Homo sapiens: one gene and its partners. The protein of the gene in region 1 purifies or fractionates together with the protein of each later gene. This does not show direct contact. Each region holds a gene or a part of one and is shown in the gene's direction. Other genes may lie near its edges.

Region 1 (3,651 bases):
TCTGTGCATTCAGTGAACATTTGCTGAGAGTCTACTATGTGCCCTAAACAGAGAAGACTTACATTTTACCCCAGGAAGTTCTTAGTGGTGTAGGGGAATCGGGTAAGTGAGCAAGTAAAAGAGCAGTGGTCACACAGCAAGTACCAGGAAAGGCTAAGCCTAGAGAGCAAAATAACAACAGTCATTCAAGAGCTGCCAAGTGCCCACTGTGTGCCAGGTCCAGGGCTAAGCCCTGAGGAGGTAGGAGCAAACAAAGTAGAAACTCTCCTGCTTTCTGCTCACCATCTTGGAGCAAAGACAGACAATTAACACATTTTCCAAACAGGTACACAACTACAATTGTGCTAAATGCTTTGAAGGAGTCCTTTGTTGAGTACCCACATTTAGCCCACAGTATCTCAAACACCCTAGGAAATAGGTAGTATTATCCCCATTTTACAGGTAAGGAAACTGAGGCACTAAATCTTTGCTTCAGGTCATGCAGCCAGGAAGTGAGCAGCTGGGTTTGCCTCAGACTGTCTAATGCCACAACCCTCGCTCTTCTCCACCCTGCTGCCTTACATTCGCCAAATGGTATACAGAAGCAACCAAACAAAATGGACAAATAGTCATTGAGTTAGAAGCACTGTCATGGCAGATTGGACCAGTCTTGTTTACTTCTGCATCCCAGTGCCCAGGACAGAGCCTGGCATATTGTAAATGCCCAATAAACATTTGTTGAATGCATGACTGAGTCCCTACAGTGTACCCAGATGTGCAAAGGTGCATTGTTAGGGGGCAGGGGATGAGTGAGTGTACAGAGTACTGTCCCTTCCTTCGTAGTGCTTTGTGTTTGCCTGGAAAGGCAGAGAACTCAGGAATAGGTGCACAATACTGAAGCTGAACAACACAGGCGGGCGGTGTCCCAGTCAGCCCCATGATTCATTGCCTTGGGATTGGAGCAGACAATAAGTGGCTGTGAGTTGGAGGAAGGAGAGGTCACCGTGGGCAGGAGAGGACTGTGAAGGTTTCCTGGAGGGCCAGAGCCTGCCCTCAGTGGGATTGATGTGGGGTGGGTGTTCCAGGTGTGGGGAAGGTATTCCAGGTAAAAGTGAGGAAGTGGGGAAAGGAGACTGAACCAGAAGCCTCCAAAGAAACTGCTGATCCAAAGATTTTGGATTTGAATAAAGGAGGGACTGGCCATGATTTTGTTGGAGAGGAGGGGGCATTCAAGACAGAGACAGTAGCTGGGTCTAGCTGGGATCTGCAAATGCACGACCTCAAAGCCAGGGGAGATGGGCAGAAGAAGGGGGTTATTGTTGTGATGGGGTACAGCTTGTGGTTGACTAGGGCAGAGGTTGGGAGAGGCAAGTGTGAAGTAGGGGCTGGATATACGGAGATGGATGTCAAATAAGAGCCAGATGTTCATCCAGAGACCAGAGGGTGTGGGGTGGGGGAGTGGCCAGGGAAAGGCTGCTGGTGTCATTATCATCGGCAGCTCTGTCCCAGTTAGACCTGCTGGGCTCCCTGTTGCTAAGGACAGGCCAGGGCAGCTCCCAATGCCAATTCCAGGGCTAGTCAGCCCTGACCACAGTTCTGACCCCAATCTTGACCTGTGTTCCCTTGTACGCACCTGCCCATGGCAGCAGGAGGGAGAGGAGAGGAGCCCTAGCAACTGTGCATGTTCCTGTGTGCATGCTCTGGGGCATGTGTGCATGCTCTGGGGCATGTGTGCACGCTCTGTGGCCTGTGTGCACGTTCTGGGGCATATGTGTTGGGGGAAAGTCGGGAAGGCTAACACCTACTCCTCAACCCTAACCATTTTCACAAGCCTTGCCCAATTCAAGCTGGCCTTTTATGGGGGTGGAGAATACTGGGCACCGTGGGTGATTGTCAGAAAAAGAGGATTTGAGATGTCATACCTCATGCATATGCACTGACTTGGCATCTCAGAACAAAGAGAAATGAGACATCATCCCCTCTCCCTCCAGCCAACCTTAATGGAGCCCAGTGTGACAAGTCAAGGTCCCAGGGTCTGGGGTGTGTAAGGACGTACTTGTGTCTCTTTCCTACCATGCATGTGGGGAGGGGTGCTCCAGTTGGGGATGCTCGAGGTCTCACCCTTCCACTGGCTCTCTCTCCCTATCTCAGTATCAAGGTAATTACCATCGGTGACTAAGGCAGGATGCTCGTGAGAAGGAGGTGTTGGGTGAAGCACAGAGCAGAGAGCAAGGAGGAAAAGAAGGAAAGAGGGCGGGCAGCCGGGCTTGGGCCCAGGGAGCGTCAGGTGGGTGAGGGTGTTCCATGGGCGGGAGCTGCTCTAGGCATGCCAGGCCTCTTACTGGCTCCTCCAGCTGGGGCAGACACTGCTGCTACACCCAGCTGTGGATGAGATTCAGGGATCTGAGTTTCTGGAATCGGGGTTCTGTGCTGGGACTGACTGCTCTTGTGGAGAATCGTGTGTCAGTGGGAGAGGGTGAGTATGGGGCCAGCTCTGGGCAGCTCAGGGCCAGGCTTTTCTTCCCAGCTCATGGCCTCTGTTTTGCCTCTTCCCCTTGCAGCCCTCCTGATTCTGGGGCCTCCCAGGATGGAGCACCTGAGGCACAGCCCAGGCCCTGGGGGGCAACGGCTACTGCTGCCCTCCATGCTGCTAGCACTGCTGCTCCTGCTGGCTCCATCCCCAGGCCACGCCACTCGGGTAGTGTACAAGGTGCCGGAGGAACAGCCACCCAACACCCTCATTGGGAGCCTCGCAGCCGACTATGGTTTTCCAGATGTGGGGCACCTGTACAAGCTAGAGGTGGGTGCCCCGTACCTTCGCGTGGATGGCAAGACAGGTGACATTTTCACCACCGAGACCTCCATCGACCGTGAGGGGCTCCGTGAATGCCAGAACCAGCTCCCTGGTGATCCCTGCATCCTGGAGTTTGAGGTATCTATCACAGACCTCGTGCAGAATGGCAGCCCCCGGCTGCTAGAGGGCCAGATAGAAGTACAAGACATCAATGACAACACACCCAACTTCGCCTCACCAGTCATCACTCTGGCCATCCCTGAGAACACCAACATCGGCTCACTCTTCCCCATCCCGCTGGCTTCAGACCGTGATGCTGGTCCCAACGGTGTGGCATCCTATGAGCTGCAGGCTGGGCCTGAGGCCCAGGAGCTATTTGGGCTGCAGGTGGCAGAGGACCAGGAGGAGAAGCAACCACAGCTCATTGTGATGGGCAACCTGGACCGTGAGCGCTGGGACTCCTATGACCTCACCATCAAGGTGCAGGATGGCGGCAGCCCCCCACGCGCCAGCAGTGCCCTGCTGCGTGTCACCGTGCTTGACACCAATGACAACGCCCCCAAGTTTGAGCGGCCCTCCTATGAGGCCGAACTATCTGAGAATAGCCCCATAGGCCACTCGGTCATCCAGGTGAGAGGCCCCCTCCGTATAACTGTCAGGGTGACCCACCACTAGAAATGGGAGCCCACCCAACCAGGTGAGAGTTCCCTTCACTTAGGGGAAAAACTGCCAGAATACTGTAGTGAGACCCCTTCTCCCCAAACTCAGCCAGGGGAGTCTTTCCCACCCCACCCCAGCAGGTGATATTACTTTCCTCTATCAGGCTACTTAGGTGACAGTGAAATAGCATATGAACAGTTTCCCGTGACCCCTAAGGC
Region 2 (3,651 bases), on another chromosome or scaffold:
GAGGAGGAAGAAGGGGAGGAGGAGAGTTCGCTGATAGAGATCGCAGAGGAAGCTGACCTGATTCAAGCAGACCGGGTGATTGAGGAGGAAGAGGTGGTGAGGCCCCAGCGGCGGAAGAAGGAAGAGAGTGGAGCAGACCAGGAGTTGGCTAAAATGCTTCTGGCCATGAGGCTAGACCATTGTGGCACTGGGACAGCAGCTGGACAGGAGCAAGCCACAGGAGAGTGGCAGGTAAACTCACTTCCTTGGGTTGAAACAGGCCTGAGAGTGTTCTGACCGCTTGTTTTCCCCCACTTCTGATACAGTATATTCACTTCACCATTACAATTAGCTAAGTACCTGTATTACAGCCTACCCCTGGTATGAGATGGCTTTAGTGATTCCCAAGGATATAAATACGATGGTTCTTCAGAGGGCCTCTGGCAAGAAATGCCAACTTAGAAAGACAGGAAGCAGGTAGCCAAGTGCTTCTGTAGAACTTGTGGAAGAATGTAGCACATATGAGTCAGGTCAAACACGGTCTCAGTACTTAATGCCTTCAGGAGTGTTGTTTTCTCTATTTCAAATGAGTTTGTGAACATGTACTAAGATTTTAGAGGATTAAAGTAAGCAATGAAGCGAGACCTCCAGGCTGGATGGAATATTCCTCCTTCATTCAGCCTGGAATTTGACACTTCTCTTAAAGCCAGAATTGTATGAATGCCCAGGTGTCTTCATGTAGCCTTCCCTCTGCTCCTTTTGGTGGAGCCTAGTAGTCCTCACTGTTTACCATGCATAACTATGATGATCGAGGATTAGATATTCAAAATAAGAATTTGTAAACCTTACCAATGATTTGAGAACTTTCAAGGGCAACTTTGGATGCAGTTTTCATCTGAGTGCTGGCTTTGCACCTGATCTAGTTCAGTTCAGTATCACTATATGTGGTGAGCGGAGTCATGATCTCAATTCTTAGAAGCACAGATTCAGCATCTCTCCCAGGAGGCATCAGGAAAGGTTGATTTGTTTCATTTTGAAGCAGCGGGAAGATCTTTATTTAGTGACATCTGTCTGACTTGCGAGCCTTCTAAAGGCTCATAGCCTCAGACTCAGTGACGGCCAGAAGAGAGCACTTTCTCATAAACAGTGCTTTCCACCACTTGTTAAAGGTACTGTGTTGATACGATGGCAGTAGGACCGTTTTAGCAGGCACTGTGCCAAGTCCTGTGTGAAGCACCAGTTGCTAGGCACTGGTTGTACAGCATTCAACAAGAAAGTACCACCCCCATGACTTTCATGGCATGCATTTTAGGAACAAGAAACAGGCTATGGTCAAAGATGTTTAATGATAACTAGTGCTAGTACTAGTATAAATGCTTTCCACGTATTTACTCCTGACAAGCCAACAATCCTATAAAGAGATACCATTATTATTCCCATTTTATAGAAGGTGATACTGAGGGACACAGAGGTTAGGTCATTTACCTTACTAGGTCCCACAACCTAGTAAGAGGTAGAGTAGGGCTTTGAAGCCAGGCAAACTGGCTCCAGAGTCCTTGTTTAGCCACTCTACAGTGGAAGAGCTGTTGGGAGAATGTAAGACACTTGACATTAATCAGTGATGCCAGCCCTTTTTCTTACGTGCTGTGACCCCTGCCTTGGGCTTAAAACCAAGCCTGCCTCTGCTCAGACAGTACCCTGCCTGGTATTGATGTCTGCAGACCCAGCGCAACCAGAAAAAGAAAATGAAAAAAAGAGTGAAGGATGAGCTTCGCAAACTGAACACCATGACTGCAGCCGAGGCCAACGAGATCGAGGATGTTTGGCAGCTGGACCTCAGTTCTCGCTGGCAGCTTTATAGGTACTGTGTTCCACATCTAGCCAACCCATGTAGGGAGTTCCTCTTCTGTTCCTAGAACATTCTCCACCTCCAAGACCTTCAACGATGTTAACTAATTATTGATTGAGCACCACCACTGAGCTGAGTGATAGGGATACAGCCATGGGATAGAATAGACACTTTGCTCTACTTTCATGGAGCTTATAGAGTCTATCCAGGGTAACAAATTAATTATTACCTTCGTGGAGCCTATGGAGTCTATCCAGGGTAACAAATTAATCACGTAATTCCACAAATAAAAAGTTACAAATGGGTATAAAAACTCAGAAAAGAACAGAGAGGTAACAGGCACAATGACTCACACCTGTAATCTCACCACTTTGGGAGGCTGAGGCTAGAGGATCTCTTGAGGCCCAGGGTTCAAGACCAGCCTGGGCAACATAGTGAGACCTCATCTCTACAGGAAAAAAAAAAAAGAGTAGGAGAGGCCGGGCGCAGTAGCTCACGCCTTTAATGCTAGCACTTCGGGAGGCCGAGACAGGCGGATCACAAGGTCAGGAGATTGAGACCATCCTGGCTAACACAGTGAAACCCCGTCTCTACTAAAAACACAAAAAATTAGCTGGGCGTGGTGGCCGGTGCCTATAATCCCAGCTACTCGGGAGGCTGAGGCAGGAGAATCGCTTGAACCCGGAGGTGGAGGTTGTAGTGAGCCAAGATCACGCCATTGCACTCCAGCCTGGGTGACAGAGCAAGACTCCGTCTTTTAAAAAAAAAAAAAAAAAAGTAGTAGAAAGCCGTTGGAAAGTTTTACAGCGATTAGTGACATCATCAGTTTTACTAATAAAATAAATACTCTATGGAGAATTAGAGGAGGGGAGGGAAATTAGGCAGGGATGCTGCAGCTGGGAGAATTCTTCCCAAAGTTTTTAAAGTCTCTTATTTTCTTCCCATAGTTAACCTTTGTTCTTTATCTCACCCCTTTCCTTAGCTCCTGACTACTCTGCACATCTTTTTGTTGGGCATTTTGGATTCTTAGGTCCCTGAATGTATCTCTCTGTTTGTCACTATGCTCCAAGGGTCCAAGGTTCACTTCATACACTGGGCACACTGAAGGGCGTTCTTCCACCTTCTCAAAGAGCATGTGGCTTTCTTTCCTTGGTTCTTCCCATTCTCCAGGCTCTGGCTACAGTTGTACCAGGCTGACACCCGCCGGAAGATCCTCAGCTATGAACGCCAGTACCGCACATCAGCAGAAAGAATGGCCGAGCTGAGACTCCAGGAAGACCTGCACATTCTTAAAGATGCCCAGGTTGTAGGAATGACAACCACAGGTAAGAAACTGTGGAGAAATTTGCCTGTTGCATCTAAGTTCACTTCTGGTGCCAGATTATCTAAGGACAGGTAAAGAGGAGCTTCTTTGGTAGGTTAGAGGAAAATACCATGAAAAGCTACTGAAAGCACCCATATTTTGAGAACTCTTGGTGAAATTCACTCACTTTCGCCAGGCGCAGTGGCTCACGCCTATAATCCCAACACTTTGGGAGGCCAAGGCAGGTGGATCACCTGAGGTCATAAGTTTGCAATCAGCCTGGCCAACATGGTGAAATCTCATCTCTACTAAAAATACAAAAATTAGCTGGGTGTAGTGGTGGGTGCCTGTAATCCTGGCTACTCGGGAGGCTGGGGCACAAGAATCACTTGAACCTGGGAGGTGGAGGTTGCAGTCAGCTGAGATCGCACCACTGCACTCCAGCCTGGGTGACAGAGTGAGACTGTCTCAAAGAAAAAAAAAAAAAGAAAAAAGAAATTCACTCACTTTCTCCTGCTGG
Region 3 (3,651 bases), on another chromosome or scaffold:
CAAGGCAGGAGGATCGCTGGAGGCCAGAAATTCGAGACCAGCCTGGGCGGCAACAAAGCGAGACCCCGTCTCTACAAAAATATTTTTTATTTTTATTTTATTTTTCCGTCAAGCTGTTCTTTATTTCAGGAAGAGGGCAGGGGAGGGGGCTCAGTCTTTCTTGGCAGCGGCTTTCCTCATGGCAGCCAGTACCTTGCTCAGCTCCTCCCGCTTCCTCTTGGCACGGATGTGCGTCCCCACCCTTTTCTTGATGAACTTGAGGGCCCATTTCTCCTTGAAGACCTTCAGTGACTCCATGGCGCGCAGCTCGTACGAAGCGAAGCCACACACCTCCCGGATCATGTCCCGCTACAAACTTGGTGCGTTTGCTCAGACGCCCGCGGCGGCGGCTGTGCCTGGGCTTGCTCACGTTCTTGGTCACCTTGTGGCCCTTGTTGAGGCCCACGGCCATAAGGTAGCGCAGAGCCATGGCTGCTGCTCTCCATGGCGGCCGTGGCGGAAGGCCAAAAATATTTTTTAAATTAGCCTGGTGTTGTGGCTCGTGCCTGTAATTCCGGCTACTCCGAGGTTGAGGCAGGAGGACGGCTTGAGCCGGGGAGATGGAGGTTGCCGGGAGCGGAGATCGCGCCACTGCACTTCAGCCAAAAGGGGGGTAGGAGGGAATAAGTAAATAAAATTAAATAAATAAAGTGGTATCTCACTGTGGTTTTGATTTGCATCTACCTAAGGACTAATGATGTTGGGTATCTTTTCATGTGCCAGTTGGCTATTTGTGTAGCTTTTTCTTTTTTTTTTTTGAGACGGAGTTTTTTTTGTTTGTTTTTGAGACGGAGTTTCGCTCTTGTCGCCCAGGCTGCAATGCAGTGGCACCATCTCGGCTCACTGCAGCCTCCACCTCCCGGGTTCAAGCGATTGTTCTGGCTCAGCCTCCCAAATAGCTGGGACCACAGGCGCCCGCCACCACACCGAGCTGATTTTTGTATTTTTAGTAGAGACGGGGCTTCGCCATGTTTATCAGGCTGGGCTTGAACTGCTGTCCTCAAGTGATCCGCCAGTCCCAGCCTCCCAAAGTGCTGGGATTACAGGCGTGAGCCACTGTGTCCGGCCCTAAATAATGTCTTTCGATGCACGGAAGTTTTCAATTTTGATGAAGCCCAATTTATGTGTGTATGTGTGTGTGTATATATATATATGTAGTGTGTGTGAGTTTTGGGTGTCATATTTGAGAAATCATTGCCTAATCAAGATCATGATGATTTATACCTTTGTTTCCTTCAAAGAGTTTTATAGTTTTAGATCGAGATCCATTTTGGTTCATTTTTGTCCCATATGGTATGAAGTAAGGATCCAAATTCATTCTTTTGCAGTTTGATATTCAAATGTCCCAGCAGTTGAAAAGACACTTCTTTCTTTCATTGAATGGTCTTGGCACCTAGATGAAAACCAGTTGACCATAGATAGGCATATGGGTTTATTTCTGGTCTCAATGCTACTCCATTGATCTATATTTCTATCCATATGCCAGTAACACAGTGTCTTGATTACTGTAGCTGTGTAATGAATTTTGAAATTGCGAGGTGCGAGTCATCCCAACTTTGTTCTTTTTCAAGATGATTTTGGGTATTCTGGGTCCCTTGCATAATATGAATTTAGGATCTGCTTTTCCATTGCTAAAAAAATGGCATTTGGAATTTTGATAGGGATTGCATTCAATCTGTAATTTCTTTCAACAGTGTTTTATAGTTTTCTGTGTACACGCCATATATTAATTTTGTTAAATATATTCCTAAGTACTTTTTCTCTTTTTTTTTTTTTTTTTTGTAACTGAGCCTGAGCAGGACCAGAGGAGTGCTTTATTCTTTTTGATGCCATTGTAAATGTAACTTTTCTTTCATATTCAGGCTGTTCATTGCCTGAACCAGTGTATAGAAATACAACTGGTTTTTCTATATTGATCTTGTATCCTGCAACCTTGCTGAATTCATTTGTGAGGTCCAGTAGATTTTTGGTGGATTCTTTAGGATTTTCTGTATATAAGATCATGTTTGGTTGCCTTTTCTTTGTCTTGCCTAATTGCCTGTCTAAAACTTCCACTACAATGTTGAACAGATGTATTGAGAACCAACATCTTTGTCTTATTCCTGACCATAGAGGGAAAACTTTGTCTTTGGCCACTAAGTATGATGTTAGGTGTGGGTATTTTGTAGATGCTCCTTATCAGGTTGAGGAAACTACCTTCTGTTTCTAGTATGTTGAATGTTTTTTTAATCATGAGAGGATGTTGCATTTTGTCCAGTGCTTTTTCTGTGTATCAATTGAGAAAATCATGTGAGGTTTTCCCCATCTATTAGTATGGTATATTGATTGATTTTCATATGTTGAACCAACCTTATATTTCTGAGATAAATCGCGCTTGGTCTTGGTATATAATTCTTTTTATATGCTCCTGGATTTTGCTTGCTAGCATTTTGTTAAGGATTTTTGTGTCTCTGTATTCATAACCCATACTGACCTATATTTTTCCTTCTTTTTTTTTTTTTTTTGAGAGATGGAGTCTTGCTCTGTTGCCCAGGCGGGAGTGCAGTGGCATGATCTCGGCTCACTGCAACCTCTGCCTCCCAGGTTCAAGCGATTCTCCTGCCTCAGCTTCCCAAGTAGCTGAGACTACAGGTGTGCACCACCACGCCTAACTAATTTTTTGTATTTTGGTAGAGATGAGGTTTCACTCTATGTTGGCCAGGCTGGTCTTGAACTCCTGACCTCAGGCGATCTGCCTGCCTTGGCCTCCCAAAGTGCTGGGCTTACAGGCGTGAGCCACTGCACCCGGCCTTGACCTATATTTTTCTTCCTATATCTTTGTCTGATTTTGGTAACAAGGTAATACTGGCCTTATAAAATGATTCGGAAAAATGTAGTAAATATCTTGGAATCATTTTTGTAGGAGCAGTTCCCAGAAGGAAGGCATGTACATTTGTAAGTTACTTGATAAATATTTTCCAGTCATTTTCCAAAAAACCAAATTGTGTTTATTTGTGATTAACATTGCCTTTGCAGAATAGTAGTCTCTTAGAAATTATAATTCTTAATGCCTTGAGGTACTTAAAAGTTTCTCTGAAAGACAAAGGCAAGCCCAACCTTCTGCAACACACCTGATTTTAACATCTAGAGCAGCTCCAAAGGTGCTAGATGCAGCATGTTACCAGCAAATTGTTTTCGAGTGCTTCCTACATAGAACAGGTTTTCTCAGCTTTAGCACTGTTTTGGGCCAGGTAACTCTTTTGTTGTTGTTTTTGAGATGGAGTCTTGCTATGTTGCCCACACTGGTCTCAAACTCTGGACTCAAGCCATCCTCCCACCTCAGCCTCCCAAGCAGTTGGAACTGCAAGTGTGAGCCATCACACCCAGCTGAATAATTTTTTTTTCTTTCTTTCTTTCTTTCTTTTTTTTAATGTTGTTTGTTTGAGACGGGATCTTGCTATGTTGCGCAGGCTGGTCTTGAACTCCTAGGCTCAAGCAATCCTCCTGCCTCGGCTTCCCGAGCAGCTGGGATTATAGGCATCAGCCACTGCACCCAGCCCTGGATAATTCTTGCTGAAGAATGTGTGGAAGCTGCCCTGCGCATTGTAGGGTGGTTAGCAGCATCCCTGGCTT

The links.
Region 2: the proteins of PCDH1 (region 1) and ZNFX1 purify together in Homo sapiens (affinity purification with mass spectrometry; one large-scale study listed by BioGRID and IntAct). This does not show direct contact.
Region 3: the proteins of PCDH1 (region 1) and DCAF4 purify together in Homo sapiens (co-immunoprecipitation; one large-scale study listed by IntAct). This does not show direct contact.

The regions. Positions count from the first base shown.
Region 1 is NC_000005.10:141,868,321-141,871,971, reverse strand, and holds part of PCDH1 (protocadherin-1 isoform 2 precursor), read left to right. Parts: intron 1-2,344; exon of another isoform or gene 2,345-2,367; coding exon of another isoform or gene 2,368-2,455; intron 2,456-2,540; coding exon 2,541-3,403; intron 3,404-3,493; exon of another isoform or gene 3,494-3,651. UniProt on the Homo sapiens protein: May be involved in cell-cell interaction processes and in cell adhesion.
Region 2 is NC_000020.11:49,253,997-49,257,647, reverse strand, and holds part of ZNFX1 (NFX1-type zinc finger-containing protein 1), read left to right. Parts: coding exon 1-231; intron 232-1,700; coding exon 1,701-1,840; intron 1,841-2,998; coding exon 2,999-3,153; intron 3,154-3,651.
Region 3 is NC_000014.9:72,929,462-72,933,112, forward strand, and holds part of DCAF4 (DDB1- and CUL4-associated factor 4), read left to right. Parts: intron 1-103; exon of another isoform or gene 104-295; coding exon of another isoform or gene 296-359; exon of another isoform or gene 360-503; intron 504-3,651. UniProt on the Homo sapiens protein: May function as a substrate receptor for CUL4-DDB1 E3 ubiquitin-protein ligase complex.